4 separate regions of the Homo sapiens genome follow, and all the other regions are reported to be linked to region 1. The links are microRNA targets in miRTarBase. Many come from high-throughput screens and were not tested one by one. Region 1 holds a microRNA gene; each other region holds the end of a gene's coding sequence.
Evidence for each region. The annotated mature microRNA hsa-miR-4768-3p reads CCAGGAGAUCCAGAGAGAAU and lies in region 1 at 1,184-1,203, shown strand. An mRNA with a match to its seed (bases 2 to 7 or 8) in the 3' UTR can be bound and repressed. Matches are read on the target gene's strand: a 7mer-m8 pairs with bases 2 to 8, a 7mer-A1 pairs with bases 2 to 7 and ends in A, and an 8mer does both.

Region 2: miRTarBase lists TFDP2 as a target of hsa-miR-4768-3p. The part of its 3' UTR that is shown has no 7-base or 8-base seed match.
Region 3: the mRNA of SVOP is a reported target of hsa-miR-4768-3p. Seed matches in the 3' UTR shown: 7mer-m8 at 1,427-1,433, 7mer-A1 at 1,526-1,532 and 7mer-m8 at 2,546-2,552.
Region 4: miRTarBase lists ZNF805 as a target of hsa-miR-4768-3p. Seed matches in the 3' UTR shown: 7mer-m8 at 124-130.

Annotation. Positions count from the first base shown.
Region 1 is chrX:17,424,744-17,427,903 of GRCh38, forward strand. It overlaps MIR4768 (microRNA 4768), which reads left to right and starts at 1,138; the gene lies at 1,138-1,211. All of the region lies in intron 1 of NHS (NHS actin remodeling regulator), which reads left to right.
Region 2 is chr3:141,949,849-141,953,008 of GRCh38, reverse strand. It overlaps TFDP2 (transcription factor Dp-2), which reads left to right. Exons shown (of 13, transcript NM_001178139.2): 12 at 1-98; 13 at 313-3,160. The coding sequence ends at 496. Among named protein-coding and RNA genes, the nearest start is that of ATP1B3, 75 kb to the right of the region's middle.
Region 3 is chr12:108,909,869-108,913,028 of GRCh38, reverse strand. SVOP (SV2 related protein) reads left to right here. Exons shown (of 16, transcript NM_018711.5): 16 at 288-3,160. The coding sequence ends at 494. Among named protein-coding and RNA genes, the nearest start is that of DAO, 31 kb to the right of the region's middle.
Region 4 is chr19:57,254,260-57,257,419 of GRCh38, reverse strand. It overlaps ZNF805 (zinc finger protein 805), which reads right to left. Exons shown (of 4, transcript NM_001023563.4): 4 at 1-3,160. The coding sequence ends at 2,717. Among named protein-coding and RNA genes, the nearest start is that of ZNF805, 15 kb to the right of the region's middle.

The DNA of each region.
Region 1 (3,160 bases):
CCTTGCTTTAGAGAATGGATGTGCTCCTCATATGCTAAGGATAAACCAGATTTTGGTAAATCAGGTTATCTTAGGGGTCCCAGGTGAGTTTGCCATTTTAACGATGCTTAGAGTGAATCCTTGTATAAGGGAAAGTATCTTGTATATTCTGTATCCTTTAGGAACTCACGTCTGTTGACTTTATCAGATGTTGGGGTGGTGGTGAGGCTAAAGACCAATAGGCGACATATGGCAGGATCTTCCCTCCAAGTGACCCTCTGGAAAGGGCTATACTTACTTAATTTTGGTGGAGCTCATCATAGGGTCAGGAAACCAGGGAGAAAGCTGAGCAACTGGTATTTATAGATCTTTCTCTTTAAATCAGGTTTGCTCATGATTTGTCTGGTCTTTATTCTTCTCCATGTCTGAAACTGAGTTCCTTGGATTCCCTTCTCTTCAAAGCCCTCTTGGCAACCTTCTGAGGAATGGCAGAGTTCATTCTGATCCACGTCCGGTGAGCGTAGCTCAACCGTGATGGAGCTTGACCTGTCAAATTCACAGAAAAATGTCCGTTACATATTCCAGCTGTTCCTTAAACATGCTCCCTAAGAGCTAGTTCCATTTGTTAGCTGTCAGAACGATGTGGAGGAATTGCTCCAGACCCTTGGATGTCATCAACCACTTTTGTTTATACACCAGTTATTTTCTCTATTAGCAAATCAATGTTTGGCAAAAAGAAAGCACAGGCTAAGAACTTTTCCTGATGAGTTGCTGCCCCAGCCTTGGAACTCTTCTCAGCCAAAAAAAAAAAAAAAAAAAAAAAAAAAAAAAAAAAAAAAAAAAAAAAAAGAAAGAAAGAAAGAAAGAAAGAAATTGAGGAGGAATTCAGTTTTACATGTTTTCCTTCCTGCTTACATGAACAGAGGAGGCCTACCTGAAGCTGAATCCAAGCACTGCCTTTGACGTTGGTAAAGATGGGGCTCTGAGCTCACATATCACCTTGGAAACTGGATCCTGTTACTGCTGGGAAAGGAATGCTTGGTTGCCAAAAGCATTAAGATAGGGAATGTGGATTCCACCTCTCAGTGCTCCTGCCTTGGATCAATTAGGTAGGATACTACCCAGAGATACAGACATGATGGACCAAGTAACTTCTCCAAACTTTGATTCTCTCTGGATCCCATGGATATGGGAACTGTGATGTCCAGGAGATCCAGAGAGAATCAGAGTTTCAGTGAGTGAAACCTAGAGTGTGTGCTGCTAGGATTTTCCTCATAAACCTGGGTGTTTTATTCTTGTGGGCCAGAAAGTTATTTCATTCCTAAACCCGTGATGTAGACTTCTCAGAAATTCCAGTGGTGTGGAGGATCCAGCTTCTATCAGCTCACAAGAGCTGATTGCACATATCTCTCCCCAACTGCTGTTCAGTGGCATCAAGTTGGTAGCTTGAAATCTGCCATGATGAGAGTATTTACACTATAGAAATTGGCAAATATGGCAAATAAGGGTCCCCACCACCCATGCTTGTGAAACATCTTCCAGCACACCAAGGAAATTATCCTAACACGTAACATCACTTATGGGGGCTGTTTAGCTTCAGGGGAGGAAATCCCCTTTGCTCTGATCTCATTGTGTGTACCTGCTTTGCATAGGCAGACTACCCCTTGTTCTCTCATCTATTAAACTCGACCTGAGAGAGAGCTTCATGAGATGGGTTGTGTGACAGGAGATCACTAGGGTAATGAGTCTGTTCCTTTCGCTGCTCAGCTATATGACAGGTTATTTTACCTCTCTAGGCCTCAGCTTCCTCTTCACTATAATAAAAGTAATTTAGATCATTAAATAATTGCTAAGTTTCCTTGTAGCTTCGACATTCTGCAATTTGATGAGTGCTTGGCTGCTGGAAAATGTCATGTGTTTCAAAGGCTTGGGGCACATGCACATCATTCACAGTGACCAGCTGAGCTCTCTCATTTTCTTTCTGGATCTTGGACTCCCAGTAATTCTACTTTTATCTGGACTTCTATCTTCAGCATGAATGAGCAGGGTGCCTCTAAGTGAGAAGCATAATTGATTAGTTCCTTCCATCTGGGGGTGTCAAAGCACTTTCAAGTCAGTAGTCAGTATCCATCATGGTTGCTCTGCAGGGAAGACTGCCTGAGAGTGCCTGTTTTGCAAGGGACATATCACAGTGGTGGACCAAGGACCCAGAATTATTGACTTGTCTTTTAATCAGAAAAGGGGCTACTTCCTGGTCTTAAAGAAGTTCCAGCTTTGAGATTAATCTGCTGTCTATAACCCCAGATCACTTGGCATGCTCGGCCTGGCTGACCTGCTGACAGAACTTGATATATTTCCCATCTCTCTGACATGGAGATAAACCTGAATAGGATTTTGCTAGTTCAGAGGATTTGGGGATACATGTTTAGGTAAAGTTTTCCTATAAAATTCCTTAAAAGAGGTGTGGTGTGGGTTTTTGTTGGGAATTGAGGCTACACTTAATGGAATGTGGAAGAGACCAAATCCACCTTTATGGGGTGCCTGGATGGAAAAGGTGTACTGATAGGAAGTTGGGACTGACCACAGACTTGGGCTGCTTTGTGATTTTGCTTACAGTCTTGCCAAGACCTAGCATCTGCCAAAATACGTGTCTCTGGGCCCTCTCTACCGAAATGTACACATTGACATGCACCAACTCATGCCGCTGTTGTTATGATTGTGTTTATGAAGCCATTTACTCTTGAATCAAGAACCTGAGTGACTTGCTGAGTGTTTGTAGGTTTATTGTCCACTCTGCCAGCTGACTGGGCTGTGTGTGTTCAATGGCTGAAGCCATGATTCCCACAGCTGAAGGTTTGGTCCATTGAGTCTGCCACCATAAAGCACAAGCTATGTGAAGGGCTGGAAAAGAAATAAATTCTTCTGGGATTAACTCCAAAGCAGAAGTACAGTTCTGTCTTGCACAGATAATAGAGGCTGGGTTCAAACTTCTTGGGGTCAGACTGCCAGCTGTGACCCACATTGGAGGTCTACCATCTTTTCTTGTTGGAATACTTCCTAAGAATATATTTTTTAAAAAATCAAGCACCCCTTGTGTATTTTACATTTGATATCTGAATTTTCTAATCGTAAGTTGAATTCATCACAAAAGTATATTTTCCAGCACATTGTGTATTCTCAC
Region 2 (3,160 bases), not on the chromosome of region 1:
ACAGGACCTTCTTGGTTAAATCAGGGACTACTTCTGAACTCTACCCAATCAGTTTCAAATTTAGACCTGACCACTGGTGCCACCTTACCCCAGTCAAGGTACGTATTTTTTTCAGGGTTAGAAAGGCAAACCCCAGAGCCCTGACTGTCTGTGTAGGGGTGAGCCGGGGTCATGTTACTGCCAGCACAGGTCCTGCTGAGCAGGTTTGTGGCAGATCTCACCAATGGCACCTCCTTCCTGTTTTTATTCCTATGTTTTACAAAACTGTTTATACCACATTAATGAGCCTGTGTGTTTTTAATTGTTTGCTAGTGTAAACCAAGGGTTATGCTTGGATGCAGAAGTGGCCTTAGCAACTGGGCAGTTCCTGGCCCCAAACAGTCACCAGTCCAGCAGTGCGGCCTCTCACTGCTCCGAGTCCCGAGGCGAGACCCCCTGTTCGTTCAATGATGAAGATGAGGAAGATGATGAGGAGGATTCCTCCTCCCCAGAATAAAGACAAGAGAAAGCCTACGTTTCAATATGTGATGCTCATGTGTGTTTGTAGTGTGAGCTCTTGTTTTTGAAATGATTGCTTCAGTCTTTGCCTTTGTTTGCACTGTGTGTTCAGTGAAAACTAGAGAAACACAATAAGCAAATCACATGAAGGCTGAGATGATTGAGATGAAAGTTAACATAGTGTGAATGAAAGTCTGGCCAACAGAGCAGTAGATGATATAACAAAGAAAGCATGCTTTCTGAGGAGATAGTGGGGATAATCCCTGAAGAGTTGGCAGTGTGAGTGCAACTCATTTATCTTCTGTGAGGTGGGATTTTTGTGTTCCTCACACCCATGTAATTATTCTTAGAATTGAGATTGCTACACGGAGCAGTCCTTGACGATCGTGTTTCTGACGTTTCTCTTCCTTGCCTGGACTGCCTTTGACAAGGCAGAAATGAACATGAAAAGTCCCCAGGAGAGGGGAGCTGTGTAGTGAGGGATACTGAGGGCAGTCCTGTGGCTGAGGGGCACAGATTGAACTGCTGAACTAGTTGGAGGTCTAGATGAGGTGCTTTACGCATCAGCTGCCTTAGACAGCTTCTAGAAAGGAGCGAGCGCTACTTCTTAAGTACTTAAGTGACATTTAGATAATTTATAGTAAAACTGAAATTATTATTAGCCAATGCATTGGTGCATAGAATTTACTAGGGCTACTTCTGGAAGCCAAAATAGAATAGCATTTCCATGTGCATTAAATACTTTGCCAGCACTGCCTTTGCCAGCATCCTAAATCTGGAGTTTTACAAAGAAGGAAACTGTATCTTTAGGTTAATCAAAGCTATGCATTTCATATAGCTTTTTCATTTAAAACAAGACAAAGAAACAAATTCCTATGACCAAATTGCTTGCCTACAGTTCCCTGCAGTAATTGTATGATCTCACCCAGTGTGCAATTTGTGAAAATGAACCAAATGTCATTACTTTTGTCTTAAAGAAAAGTCTATTTCAAGAATATGAACAGCAGTGTTTCCTTGTACATGTCACCTTTTTTCACATTTTCATTAATCAGAATGACCTTATTGAGCCTACTCCTGGGGTCAATTGCATTTCAAACTAATCCAATATTTAGTGTTTCACAGAAACACTAGAAAACGTTGAACACTCCTACTGCCTGGATATATGGTAGTGCAGTTATGTTGTTTATGGCTCAAGATGTCATTAGAAATACTGCAGTGGTGTATTCACAGCTGCTCCTTCTCTGAATGAAAGAGTGTAGGGACACCTGCCACCATGGCCAGACCCTGACTGAATTTCACATTAAGGCTTTGGAAAGGAGCAAATAATAATGGGAGAATTAACTCCAAAACTTTGACCTGAATCATGTGGATTTGTCCCAAGATTATGCTAGATGCACCAAGCATGGCCCAAATTGGTTCTTTTTTAAATCCCATGGGGGAAGTGCAGGCTCCTTCCTGTGGTGCCTCTTTATAGCCTCACCACCATGCTAACACTGAGCATGGTGAGGAGGAGGAAGCTTTGGCTAGCTAAACATGTTTAATAAGGCCATAAAAACTGAGAAAGAAAAACATTCAACTTTAGCTGAAGCTCCTTTGATACAAAAGTTTCATTCTGTCAGAAATAAGCCATAGTACAGACTCAGAGATAGAGGCAGTTTCTAGAGAACTCGGTCTTATCGTGGGTTCTGGAGCACACCTCTCAGACCAGTCAGGAACACTGGGGAGGTGACAGCAGGTCCCCAGGGGCCTGCAGGGAATCTTTCAGCTGCACGGATTGGGATTTCCCTCCAAACCAAACTGTCCTTTAAGGGGCAGCCTCCTCTTTTACTAACTCCACCCTTTCTCATCTCTGGGACCCAGCAGGGACCTGGAGAGGCCAACAGCCACTGCTACCTTTGTAGTCTTCAAAATATTGAACTGCAGGTCCCAAGATGCATTTCAGGATTTAAGACAGGTGCACTAATGATAACCATTCCTTCACCAAGTAGCAACATTCTTGCCAGAGTTCTTGGGAAACCTGTTTTTTTCTCTACTCTCCATCTCTGCTGCTCTCATGCTTTAAATTGATAAAATATGGGCTCAAAAAAAGAAAGCCGCCAAAGACTCTTATCCTTATTGGTGCCCCATCATTGGCCACCCCAGCCATAGGTGTGTGCTGTTGGTGGGAAATGGTCTCCTTCCTCAGCGTTGTGTTTGGGTTACTGGTGAGGCCAGCTCACAGAGTGACATCATGGTCACCAGTACATGTCGCTGGAGTAAAATCTTGCCTTTAGAAACTAGGTTGAGCTGTTCAGAAAGGTCAATTCTCTTCTGTATTCCCCCTCAACATTTATCTGGGTCTAAAGCTCAGCACTGAGTCACAATTTCACACAAGATCAAAGTGAGGCAGTGTTAGGAAACCATGGGCTGGGTGCAGTGCCTCTCGCCTGTAATCGTAGCACTTTGGGAGGCCGAGGCGGGCACATTGCTTGAGCTCAGGAGTTCAAGACCAGCCTGGGCAACATGACAAAACCCTGTCTCTACAAAAATACAAAAATTAGCTGGGTGTGGTGGGGCATGCCTGTAGTCCTGGCTACTCAAGAGGCTGAGGTGGGAGGATTGCTTGAGCGCAGGAGGCGGAGGTTGTAGAGCCAAGATCACACCACTGCACTCCAGCCTGGGT
Region 3 (3,160 bases), not on the chromosome of region 1:
AAGAGATTTATTTGACTCACGATTCTGCAGGCTGTACAAGCATGGCACCAGCATCTGCTTGGCTTCTGGTGAGGCCTCAGGAAGCTTTTACTCATGGAGGAAGGCAAAGGAGGGGCAGGCGTGTCACAAGGAGAGAGAGGGACAAAGGGGGAGAGGAGGGAATCACCAGATCCTTTTTAGCAAGCAGATATCACGAGAGGGCCTGATGTTACTAATACTATTTGATGGTTGGCGATGTCTGTGCTTCAGAAGGGATGCTTTCACCGACCCGTGTCTCCTTCCCCTAGGTGATGCTGGAATCCTCTGTGTACCTGACTCTGGCAGTTTACAGTGGCTGCTGCCTCCTGGCTGCCCTGGCCTCCTGCTTTTTGCCCATTGAGACCAAAGGCCGAGGACTGCAGGAGTCCAGCCACCGGGAGTGGGGCCAGGAGATGGTCGGCCGAGGAATGCACGGTGCAGGTGTTACCAGGTCGAACTCTGGCTCTCAGGAATAGTGACCGATGGGGGACTGAGCTGGTCTTTGAGGCTGCAGAGCTTGGGGGGCTGGCAGGCCCCAACTGGGGCACTGATTGTCACTGCCGACATCAAGAACTCACCCAAGAGTATGACCTGGACCAACAGGGTTTTGTGTCTTGACTCAGTTTGCTCATCTTCATTGAGGTCCACCCAGGGATGGGGAGATGTTTGCTCTAGGGGGTTCTCTGTATATGTGGTGAAAGCTTTGTTCATAACCTGTGGATCTACATGGGAAGACTACCCATATTAGGAGGGTCTGGTAATGCCAGCAACCAATCAGACACCACCCAGAGTCACCCGGCCAAACCCTCAGTGAACAACCAAAATATCTCTCTGTAGATACCGTCCAGGCTCAGGCCCATGTGACACCTGCTGTCCACCCACCGGACCTGTTCAGTAGGTTTCTCCCACACTCACAGCCCCAGGCTTTCTTCTTTGAAATTGCAGGCGATCTAGGTGTGGTCTGAGCAGCTATTTCCTGGCAGGGGCCCCCCGGTTTGCCTCCCTAGAGCCTGACCAGTGGATTCTCTGGCAGATGGACATGGTGCATTCAAACTGGAGCCACATGCCCCCACCCAGCCCCCTCTGGAGTTGCCGTTGTTGGCACCAAGAGATCCAGATGTGTCCCTGGGGACAGCTGGTCTTGCACCAGGTGACAACCTCAGAACGCCGTTACCCCCTGGGAACTGAGGACTGAGGCCAAAGTGAATCAAGCTGAAGTCAGAGCACGGGCCTCCCCTTCTGAAGCAGCGAAGGCCACGGTTCCGACTTCTTTCCTGGCCCCCTCCTTGGTCAGGCTGAATGGTGACTTTTATTGTTTTTTGAGACGGAGTCTTGATCTGTCGCCCAGGCTGGAGTGCAGTAGCGTGATCTCGGCTCACTGCAACTCTGCCTCCCGGGTTCAAGCAATTCTCCTGTCTCAGCCTCCCGAGTAGCTGGGATTACAGGTGCCCACCTGTACTTTTTAGTAGAGACAGGGTTTCACCATGTTGGCCAGGCTGGTCTCGAACTCCTGACCTCAAGTGATCCACCCGCCTCGGCCTCCCACAGTGCTGAGATTACAGGTGGGAGCCACTGCACCCGGCCTGAATGATGACTCTTGAGGGGAAAAAGTTTACTCAGGTTTGCAGGTACAAAATCCAAAATCCAGGGCTTTGGGTTTTGTGCATGGGTAGACAGCTGAATGGGCAGAGAAACCAGAAGGATGCTACACCCACCATCTCATCCCATGGGGATCAGGGGACCAGGATTCCCTGATGCGAAGCTGCTCCTCTGTCCAGGGACGTCTTGATCATTACACAAAGGCAGCCCCTGGAGTTCCATTCATGGAGCCTGCCGTGGAGTGGAGAGGGGTGGGAGGACTCAGGTGTGTGAAATGTATATGTTTTCAAAGGAAGCAGTGGGAGGCCAGTTGGTTTTGAGTTGGTCTCCGCAGGCAACATCACTTCTGGGATTTGGTTTACTGGAGCCTTTTTTCCCATGGTGAAGGCAGGGGACATAGACAAGGAGGGAGGAAGCTGGCAGATCCCATCAAAGGCCAGAGCAGACAGACCTACTGCTTGAAGTAAACATTGCAAGGAAGCCAATTTGTGCGTTCAACTCTTATTAAAACATGTCAGTGATGGACATTGCAAGAGCCTAAGTTTATTCATTGTCATCATGTCCTAGTGACAGTCCAGCCTAACGGTCTGACTACCTTTGTTCATCGGAATTCATCTCAATGCTTTAGTGTGATAATCTCCTTTCCAATGAGTGGGGAAAGACATACCGTTGGCAGCCAACATTGTGGCTGAGCTTGTTGGAGACAACACTTTCTTCTAATGGTGTGCAGGTCATGATGGGGGACTTCTTCCAGCTCAAGTTCTAAATCAACTGCAAACAATACTGTGTCTCTAAAATGTGGGCTGCAGCCCCCTCCGCCCAGGCAGTTGAAGAGGAGATGGCTTGGCAGATCTCTGTCTCTCTCTGACAACCACATTTCCTTGAACCACGTGTGGCTGTAGCTCTAATTATTTCTGGACAGCTGAGCTCTCCTGGGTAACACAGAACTTTTGCTTGTCTCTTTTGCCTTCCGGCTGGTCAGACGCTACTGGATGATCATGTCCGCTCCCTCACCCTAGAATAACCCAGTGGAGCTGGGGGCTGGGGGGGATAGAGTGCTTGGTGGGCAGGAATATTTCCCAGAGACTAGGGTAAAGGGGTTTACAGTTGAGGGCCTTCTCTACTTGAGAAAGTGAAAGTTAAAAACTCCTGCTGGGTATGGTGGCTCATGCCTATAATCCCAGCACTTTTGGAGGCCGAGGCGGGCGGATCACAAGGTCAGGAGATCGAGACCATCCTGGCTAACATGGTGAAACCCCGTCTCTACTAAAAATACAAAAAAAAATTAGCCAGGTGTGGTGGCGGGTGCCTGTAGTCCCAGCTACTCAGGAGGCTGAGGCCGGAGAATGGCGTGAACCCAGGAGGCAGAGCTTGCAGTGAGCCGAGATCGCGCCACTGCACTCCAGCCTGGGCGACAGAGCAAGACTCCATCTCAAAAACAAAACAAAACAAAACAAAAACTCTTTGCCTTGTAAATAGCCTGCCTTTTTCAAAAAAATCAATATTATCAAATGATACAAGAGCTATCACAAAAGGCACCCAA
Region 4 (3,160 bases), not on the chromosome of region 1:
ATGTGGAGCAAAAACTGATAGAACTTAAAGGAGGAATAGGTAATTCCACAATTATAGCTCAGGACTTCAACATCCTTCTCTTGGCAATTGATAGAAATACTAGACAGAAAATCAGCAAGGATACAGGAGACCTAAATAACACCACCAACTAACAGGATCATACAAACTTTTACAGAAACTCCACCAAATGACCGAGAACACACATTCTTTTCAAGCAGCTATGTAAAACAAGACAGCCTATATCCTGGGTCATAAGGAAAAAAAGTCAACAAATTTCAACAGTAACATCAAATGCAAAACAAATTAGAAATCAATAACAAATAGCAGGGAATACTCCAAACACTATTAAACAATATACTTCTAAATAATTCCTGGGTTAGAGAAGATGTCTCAAAAGGAATCAGGCAATCTTAGAACTGAGTAAGATAATCAAAAGCATATTAAGACTTGTGGGATGAAACTAACAGCAGTGTAAGAAAAATGTATAGAACTTAAAGCTTATATTAAAAAAGAAAAAAAGCCTCAAATCAATAACCTAAACATCCACGTCAGGAAACCACTGAGTCAAATACAACCAGAGCAAGTAGGAGAAAGGATACAATACACATCAGAGCAGATATCAGTGAAATTAAGAACAGAGACTGGAGAAAAATCAGTGATATAAAGTGCTATTTCTTTGAAATGATCAATGAAATTGACATATGTCTACAAAGACTGACAATAATAAGTGATACATTTCCAATATCAAGAATACAACAAGGAACATAAGTACAGATCCTGCTGCCATCAAGAGGATAAAAGGAAATATTTCAAAGAATGCTACAAATTAGAACATTTACATAAAATGAACACTTCCTTAAGAAAATCTATAAAAATTCATCCAATATGAAATACTCTGAATAGTTCTATACCTATTAAATAAAATAAATACATAATTAAAAAGCATTCAAAAGGAAAATCTCCAGGTCCCACTTCTTCACTGGAGAAAGCTACCAAACATTAAAGGAACAAATAACACCAATTCTACACATGATCTTCCAAAAAAACAGAAGAGAATTCCTTCCAATTCATGTTAGGAGGTTAGTTATCATCTAGACATCAAAACCAAACAGTAACAGTTGAAGAAAGAAAACTACAGATTATCACTCATGAAATCAGAGGAAAGCTTCCTCAACAAAATACTAGCAAATGAAATACTGTAGCATAGTACACAAACAAAATTATACTCCATGATCAAGTAGGGCTTATCACAAAGATGTGAGGCTGGTTCAATACTTGAAACTCAATCAAGGTAACACATCATATCAACTGACTATAGAAGTAACATCACATAATTAAATCAATTGGTGGAGAAAAAGCATATGACAAAATTCAACACTTATTAATAATAACCAAAAAAATCCCAGCAAATTAGGAATAGAGGGAAACTTTCTAAACTCGATAGAGAAACTCTTTGGAAGCAACTTTCAACATCATAATAATGAGAAACTGAACATTTCCCCCTAATATCAGGAACAAGGCATGGATAACTTGTCACTATTCGTATTCAACATCACACTGGAAATCCTACCTAGTACAATAACATGAGAAAAGCAAATAAAAGGTATACAGATGGGAAGCAAGAAATAAAACTGTCCCAAATTGCAAATGACATTTCTATATTTAAAATCCTAAGGATTCTCCCAAAAGAAATGGCAAGAAATAATGAGTTTAGGAAGGTTGCAAGACAGCAAAATAAGATTGAAAAAATAATGTTTCTGTATACTAGCCAACATCATGTGAATATTGAAACTTTAAATATCAATGCCATTTACAATCACTCAAAAAACTATGCAGCTATAATTCTTATTTTAAATGTGCAGGAGTTATACTGTGTAAACTATAAAACAGTAATGAAATATATCAAAGAAAATTTAAATAATGAAAAGATAGGCTATGTTCATGAATTGGAAGACTAAGATGCCAATTTCCAACACATTGATCTATAGATTTAACTCAATTTCTATCAAAATCCAAGCAAGAATATTTGAAAAACAGAAAAACCAATCCTAAAGTGTATATGGAAAGTCAAACTAGGAATGCTAAATGAATTTTAAATAAAAATAGTAAGAAAAAAGAAATCACATTACCTAATTTTGAGATTTACCATACAGCTATAGCAATCAAGTAAACCAACAGATGGGAATCAAGAAAAATTCTCAGTGTTAGTGTTTAAAACCCATTAAAAAAGAATTTTTTTAAAAAATCAAAGACCTAAACAGTATTAAGTGGTACAATAAAATGTGCGCATTCATGTTTCTTTTAATCCTTAAATATAAAAGTATTTCATAACTCAAGGCTTCATTATTTCTCATAAAAACAATGCTTCTTAAGAAGAGACAATGTTGTAGAACAAAGACATTGAGTAAGTTTCCAGACCTTCCCTTACTAACTTTCCTGACACAGGACAGAAATGTACATACAAGACAACAGTATAAAAGCAGTGTCTGCATTTCATTTTCTTTTCTATGTCACCTCTTTCTGTTTATAAAAATTCCTGAGATAACATTGCACTGTAAACTAATGAGAAAGATGGAGCTAAAGGTTTTCCCAAGTGCGTAATAACCACTGGGTGTTTTTCCAGGATGAATTCGGATGGAGAATAAGGCTCTAAGCTGCGTGATTTTCTAATATGACTCCTTAGGTGACAAATGACATTTGGCAACAGAAGGTTTTCTCACAGTGAAGACACTTGTGGGGTTTCTCTTTGGTATGTACGATCAGATGCCATGTAAGATGCTTCCTCTTGCAAAAGATTTTCCTCAGTGGTGACATTCAAAAAGTTTTTCCCCAATAAAAGTTCTTGGATGTTGACTGAGGTCTGCCCACTTGTAAAAGGTCTTCCCACATCTGTTACACTGATAGGATTTCTCCCAGTATGCATCCTTTGATGCTGAGTGAGGGACGAGCTGCGACTGAAGGCCTTTCCACATTCACTGCACTCATACGGCTTCTCTCCAGTGTGGATGATAGAGTGTCGAATGAGGTTTGTGCTCCAGCAAAATGTTTTCCCACACTCGATGCATTCATAGGGCTTCTCTCCACTATGAATCCGCTGGTGCCTTGTGAGGCCTGACCTGCGGTTGAAGGCCTTTCCACACTCCATGCACTCATAGGGCTT